Linked DNA regions of Homo sapiens. The main gene of each other region encodes a partner of the protein of the gene in region 2 in a complex. Each region holds a gene or a part of one and is shown on either strand. Other genes may lie near its edges. The genes, in order: MBIP and SGF29.

Region 1 (3,824 bases), on a different chromosome or scaffold from region 2:
GCATACTTGCAGATTTGTAAATGTACTATAGCATCAAGTAGAGAGGTAAAGGTGAATCAGATGAAAAACAGCAAATGTATGCACTATGGCAGAAAGGAAAAAAGCAAGACACCATGGTCTTCATGATAAATTGGTTGTATCGTGACACAGGACATTTCAAACAGCTCAGGAGTAGTGAGAAAACTGCTCCCTCTGGAGGAATATTAACTTTACTAAGTTCACTTACGTATTAACATCATGATTTCACAGTACATGTATAGGTTTGAAATTCATAGAGCTCAGTTCCTTTTACTAGTGAGATAGATCAACCTTCTCACTCGTACCTCACCTTCATTTCCTAAAGGAACTTTAAAATAATCTTCACCTGTGATAAACACTTTTTAATGTTAGCATTTACTTTGTGTAACCAAAATGAAAACCAGTTTGCAATATAGTCTATTATTAAGCAGAAGGAAACTCTACTGTCTTAATTACTAACTAAATCCATGAAATAAATTGAATTGTGTTCTAAAAGCTATTCATTTAAAAAATAAATAAAAGATTAGAGCAACTATAAAAATTGTGCTTAAAACCCTATGAAAATTAATTTCCAGGTAGTTACCTTGATTACAATCAATAACATTGCAAAATTCCCTGACGTTGTTTTCATTGATTTCAGCTTGCTTTCTTTCAATAAATGCAGATATTCGTCTGTCAATCTACAAACAACAAGTTTTAACAGTGTAAACATAAGATTTTTTAAAATAATACCCTCTCGCCCCCGCCAAAAAACCTTCTTACTTCTGCTTTTCCAGCCTTTATCTGAACTACTTCTGGATCAAAATGGATCTGTGTCTTTTTCACATCTCTTAAATCACTTTCTTTGTGCTTTTCTTCCTCTTGTAGGTCGCCAATGGAAAATTTGTCATTTACTTCATTTTTGTTCCCCATTTCTGTTCTTCCTATCTCTTCAACAGCAGTTGTATTCTCCTCTTTAATCGGAGACTGAAGTTTTGCTAAAAAAGGCTGAGAACAACACAATTCCATCTGCTGAGGTTCAATCTGACCAAAATTAATTACACACTTAATATATTTACATAAATTTCTGCTAAGTAAATGAAATACTTAATATCAGTTAATAAATATAAAAAGTTGGTATACCAGGACACATAGATCTGACCACATATAAGTACTCACTATTCTCTGCTATTGTAACCATTATCATTTGCTATAAATTTGTTTTTTAAAAAAGGAGAGAGGAAAAAAGAAAAGAAAAAAGAAAAGAAAACCTAAGGAAATTTAAAATTTTCTTTGAGAGAATCATTCTGTCACTCATCTTTTATTTTGTGCCAAATCAAAGCCTTCAGCCTCTGGCACCAATGCCACTTAATTAACATGTCATTCAAATGCCTCCTCAGAACACTAAGGCTTAGTATTTTTCCTCCTTAACACGAGAGCTAGTGCTCTCACTCAGCAAAGCCCTGCATTATCACTGTATCACTGGAGATTCTCCACTTGAAACTGCAGTTGGCCAATGTGAATGAGGAAGCATAGACATGAAATATATAGGTGTTAGGCTGAGTGAACACTCAGACTTTTCCTGACATGGCAAGATATCTTTTGGTCATAAAATTAAATTTTAAAAAAGAAAACGAACAAGAAAAAAAAAAGATCTATAGCTGAAAACAGGCAGAGGCCTATCACTATACTACAGGGGGAAAACCCCTGTTGTAGAATTTAAACTATATTACTCATTTACTGTTCCCCTCCCCCACTCCCCACAATGAGGTCTCATTTGAGTTCTAGAGCTCACTGCTCTGCCCTTTAAAAACAGGGTTAACTATTACTTTTAACATGAAACAGTTAAAATTTCCCACAAAGTCAATGAATGGAGGGCTGAAAATTAATGCCTATTCCATTAGTCAAAACACACTAACACTAATAACGTTCCAATTATTTTTTTCATACCTACAATTTTGCTTCCATTGTTCGCTATACTACTCTTTTGAAATCTTATAACACCTTAATCACAGTAAACTGACCAATCCAGTTTTTCCACTTATCTTTTTGACACTTCACATTTTACACTTTGATTAGAGATAAACTGCAAACTTACATCAATTATAATTGCAAAGATGTTCAATTAGAAACCAGCAAGGTCATAATACTGTTCAGTTATTAACATGAAATATTTAAAAATATAACAACACTATTATAAATACCAATTCAATATTAACTTCTAATATAAAGAATGAATTATTTCAAACTGTTAAGGAAAAGAAATGATAAAATAGTGACTGGCTACTTACTAAGATGAGACATTAATGTCATAGAAATTACTTTCTTTTTAAAAACTATGCTGAAACTGTTTAATTGCAATAGACACTCCAGGATGTGTCATGCTGGGATAATGCCCCTTCTTGAACCACTGAAAGCACTCCATGAGCCTCCAAACTCACCCAAGGCATGGAATCATTATCATAGCATGACACACACCTGCCGTGTCTTATTGCTTAATTATAACCCACCATAGATGGAACTGTATTGAATTTTCAGTGCAGGTCTAGAATTGAATAGAATTGCATTCATTCACTCATACCCACATTGGTCTTTTGGGCTATATTCCCTTAACTGTCCTGATCACTACTGAAATTAACAGATTTAGATTAAATCCGGATGTAAATAACGTTTTATTAGCAACACTATTAATATAGTGTTTAGAACTGTCAAATACTCCAACTAACTTAACCACAATCAATTTCTATTTTCAATATCGGGTTATCATTTCTAACAAGAAATTTACCTGTAAATATAAAATGTGTTGTTCAAGTGCACTAAAGAGCAATGCAGGCTGGAATGCCGAGAGGCTCTGGAGCTTGTTCCAATCGATTGTAATTTTCACCACATCATCTCTGAGGTCAAGCTTCAAAGGGGCAAACCAGCAACATCACAAAAATTACACGATTAAGCTCTACATATGGAATTGTCACAAAAATAAGATTTCTAGAGTAACGGGTCTATTTTGCTCTAAGTTATCAAGTTTTTAATAATACACTGAAATGCTCTACCCAGTTACCATTTCAAAAGGCCAAGAAAGCTACAGATTTTCATAAAAAAACAAAAACAAAATGACATGTCGTTCAAATTCTATTCTTAGGTCTGTGTAATGGGACCATTTTAGAGGTAAAACCATTCATGAAAGATGAAAAGATGAAGGCTCTTTTGATACTTCAATATATACAAACCTTTGGATGGAGTCCAATATAGGCTTGCCCTATTCAGAATCCTACTACTTCTAGCTCAGAGCCTTAAACAGAGGAAGTACAAGTGTTTTGTGAAAGTTTTAACATGCATCTTTCTCTTTAAGTATGTACACAAATACATATCAGAAATATATCATTATTCTGATGTCCTCCAAATCACATTTTTAGTTTTTTAACTTTTAACCGATTTTTAAACTAATTTAAAAGTCAAGATTATTCATACATATAAAGTGTAGGGATAAATGGCAACATGTTTATTTCAAATAAAAAACTATTATTTAGCAATGGAAGTCTGAAGCTGAAAAACAAAGACTTCTCCACCACAGTGAAATAAGTTGTCAGACTGGATGAAATGTCCAGATCTTTTGTAAATGCTAAGATGTGACAGCTCATTATATGGAAATTTCTATCAGTTGGTGATCTAATAGAATAAAATCATATCCAGAAAACTACCAAGAACCTGAATATAAGATTATTATCAAAATGAGTGAAAATTTTACAATGAGAGCGCCCATCTGCAGTCTTTTGAATGAATAAAAGTGAACCATCAAAAACTTTTCTAGGGACATGTGTTTACAGCAT
Region 2 (3,824 bases):
CTCTGTCTGCATCCGCTCATGGGTCTTCTGGATGTTCACTAAGTTGTGTTCGCTCCGCGAACGCTCTTCCTGTAAGGAAAAGAGCAGCAGGACATGACGGTGGCCCTTTGTGCTGCTGTGGTACCCTGCCAGCCAGGCCAGAGTCCCCATCCCCAAAATACGGCCCTCATTTTCTTTTTTTTTTTTTTTTTTTGAGATGGAGTCTCACTCTGTCGCCCAGGCTGGAGTGTAGTGGCACGATCTCGGCTCACTGCAAGCTCCGCCTCCCGGGTTCACGCCTTTCTCCTGCCTCAGCCTCCCGAGTAGCTGGGACTACAGGCGCCCGCCACCACGCCTGGTTAATTTTTTGTAGTTTTAGAAGAGACGGAGTTTCACCGTCTTAGCCAGGATGGTCTCGATCTCCTGACCTCGTGATCCGCCTGCCTCGGCCTCCCAAAGTGCTGGGATTACAGGCGTAAGCCAATGCGCCCGGCCTAATTTTTTGTATTTTTAGTAGAGACAGGGTTTCGCCATCTTGGCCAGGCTGGTCTTGAACTCCTGACCTCGTGATCCACCTGCCTCGGTTTCCCAAAGTGCTGGAATTACAGGCAAGGGCGCCCGGCTATGGCCCTCATTTTCTAAATCCAAATTCAGGAGTTCAAGATGATTTTCTCCTTTGACTAATGCAAAAGCATTATAAAAGGCCTTAAAGGGCCTGGTGCAGTGGCTTAAGCCTGTAATCCCAGCACTTTGGAAGGCCAAAGTGGGCAGATCACTTGAGATCAGGAGTTCAAGACCAGCCTGGCCAACATGATGAAACCCCACCTCTACTAAAAATACAAAAATTAGCCGGGCATTGTAGCATGTGCGTATAGTCCTAGCTACTCGGGAGGCTGAGGTTGCAGTGAGCTGAGATCATGTCACTGCACTCCAGCCTGGGTGACAGAGTGAGACTGTTAAAAAAAAAAAAAAAAGAAGGCATTAAAGTTAAATCATAAGTGATATCTTTAATGATAGTCCTTTATCAAAGAGACAAATCAATCTATACAGTCAACGCAATCCCCATCAAAATTCTAATTGACTTCTTTGCAGAAATTGACAAGTTCATCCTAAAATTCATATGGAAATTCACGGGACCCAGATTATCCCCAATCTTGGAAAAAGAAAAAAAAAGTTGGAGAACTCATACTTCCCAATTTCAAAATTTATTACGAAGCTACGGTAATCACGATGGTGTGGTACTGGCATATAGATCAACAGAACAGAATTCAGAGTCCAGAAATAGACACATACAGGTATGATCAATTGATGTGGAGAAGAAGGGGTGGGGAAGAATGCTGGTGCAATTCCTCCCATATCAGTCATCCTGGGAGCAGAGCTGCAACTGCAGATGCTGGAAACTGAGACAGATCCTAAGAAAGAAATTATGACTATGCTTTTTAGCCTTTATGTGAGAATTTTTAAGTGCCTGATGGGTGGGTTGCGCCTTTACCTCAACCTGCAAAATGAGGTTAACAGTGAACACAGCTAGCTAGCTGCCTAGTGCTCAAGACAGCCAATAGTCCATACCTGTGTAACCCCACCCTATATAAATGGGAATGGATTGGGGTTGGGGGGGGATACTTGCTAGACTAGTACTGCTGCCGCTGCAATCTGGACCAGGTACAGTGGCCAAAGCTAACATCCCTTACAAAGGTGGAAAAGTTTGGGTGAAAACCAATCACAAATGGAGAGGAGAAACAGTAGCCGAGTTAACAGAACAAATTAAATGGGTTATGCAATGAGGGAAATCCAATATTGTACTCATACCTCAAGAGAGGCTGAGAGAGAGAGAATGCCATCTCTTAGGTCAGTTACACTGGGTGCCTGAAAGGGCGAAGCCCTGTGTCTGTCAGGACCACGCCTGCTTTTGGAAGCTGACGGGTGAGATGGGAGTCTGGGAACTCGGCAGCAGCTGTCTGAGGGACACCCTGGTTGTATGGGATGATGATAAACTGTTCTAACTGTGGATGACTGAATGGAATGCGTAATCTGCCTGTATCTTTTTTTTCCTTTATTTATTTTTTTGAGACGGAGTTTCGCTCTTGTCGCCCAGGCTGGAGTGCAGTGGTGCGATCTTGGCTCACTGCAACCTCCACTTCCCAGGTTCAAGCGATTCTCCTGCCTCAGCCTCCCTAGTAGCTGGGATTACAAGCATGTACCACCACGCCCGGCTAATTTTTAGTAGAGATGGAGTTTCGCCATTTGGCCAGACTGGTCTCAAACTCCTGACCTCAGGTGATCCACCCGCCTCAGCCTCCCAACATGCTGGGATTACAGGCATGAGTTACCACGCCCAGCCCTTTTTTCCTTTATTTTACAATGTATTTTATTGATAAACTCTTCTTAGAGCAGTTTTGGTTTACAGAAAAGCTGAGCTGATGGCACAGAGTTCCTGTATGTATACCTGCTCTGCCCTGCGCAGTCTCCCCTATTGTTAACATCTTGCATTAGAGTGGTGCGTTTGTAACAACTGATGAGCCAATACTGTTAGATAATTAACTACATCCATCCCCATGATGGTTTACTCTGTGTGTTCTGCCGTTCTATGGGTTTGGACAACGCATCATGTTGCGTGCCCCCCATCATGGTACCCTGCAGAAGAGTTCCACCCCCTAAAATCCTCTGTGCTCCACCTATCCATCCCTTTCATCCTATCTCTCCCAAGGCCCTGGCTACCGCTCATCCTTTCACTCTCTAGTTTTGCTTTTCGTTTACAGTTGGAATACACAGCACGTAACCTTTCAGACTGGCATCTTTCACTTAGCAATGAGTGCCGGCATCTTCTGACTCTTACTCTCCAGGTTACGTCTAAAAGGAATACCATTTGGGAAGGAATTTCTGGGATCTACTCCTTCCTGGCTGTGCGGTGCACAACTGCCAGCAAACTGATCCTTGTGTAGCTATAAACCCTGAGTATCGTGGGCAAAATGTGGCAGAGCATGCCCGATAGCCTGCAGTGAGCTACAGGCACCAATACGCATCTCCCTTGTATCTGTGAAAGAAAAGATATCAAATAGGGGAAAAATGGCTTTTTTTTTTTTTGAGATGGAGTCTTGCTTTGTCACCCAGGCTGGAGTGCAGTGGCGCCATCTCGGCTCACTGCAACCTCTGCCTCCCGAGTTCAAGTGATTCTCCTGCCTCAGCCTCCCCAGTAGCTGGGATTATAGGCATCCGCCACCAAGCCTAGCTAATTTTTGTATTTTTAGTAGAGACAGCCAACATGGCAAAACCCCGTCTCTACTAAAAATACAAAAACAATTAGCCGGACATGGTGGTGTGTGCCTGTAATCCCAGCTACTAGGGAGACTGAGGCAGAAGAATCGCTTGAACCCAGGAGGCAGAGGTTGCAGTGAGCTGAGATCGCGCCACCGCACTCCAGCCTAGGTGACACAGTGAGACTCCGTCTCCAAAAAAAAAAGAGTGTTTTTGTTTGCCTGGATTAATAGGGTGGAAGGAAAAGATATGGGGCATTTTTGTTGGGTGTTAAAAATGTTCTGAAATTGATCGTGCTAATGGTTGCACAATTTTGTGAGCTGCGAAAAACCACTGGATTATACACTTTAAATGGGTGCGTTGTATGGCATGTGAATTCTATCTCAGGATAGCTGTCAAACAAAATGAATCATGAAATCCTGTACATGGTAGAAAATCCAACAGGAATGGTAGCCATACACCAAATTCCCCTCCTTTCACTTTTATTACGTCATTTTGGTTCCTGCGAGTCCAATCTCTCTGAACACAAATGCCACCCCCACTTCACGGCTCAGCATCAAAGCCCATGTTCCCATCTGGGAATGGAGGGT

What was found.
Region 1: SGF29 (region 2) and MBIP share a complex: the UniProt entries of both Homo sapiens proteins name them as parts of the ADA2A-containing complex.

The regions. Positions count from the first base shown.
Region 1 is NC_000014.9:36,313,911-36,317,734, forward strand, and holds part of MBIP (MAP3K12-binding inhibitory protein 1), read right to left. Parts: intron 2,903-3,824; coding exon 2,783-2,902; intron 1,006-2,782; coding exon 781-1,005; intron 699-780; coding exon 602-698; intron 1-601. UniProt on the Homo sapiens protein: Inhibits the MAP3K12 activity to induce the activation of the JNK/SAPK pathway. Component of the ATAC complex, a complex with histone acetyltransferase activity on histones H3 and H4.
Region 2 is NC_000016.10:28,581,158-28,584,981, reverse strand, and holds part of SGF29 (SAGA-associated factor 29), read right to left. Parts: intron 70-3,824; coding exon 1-69. UniProt on the Homo sapiens protein: Chromatin reader component of some histone acetyltransferase (HAT) SAGA-type complexes like the TFTC-HAT, ATAC or STAGA complexes.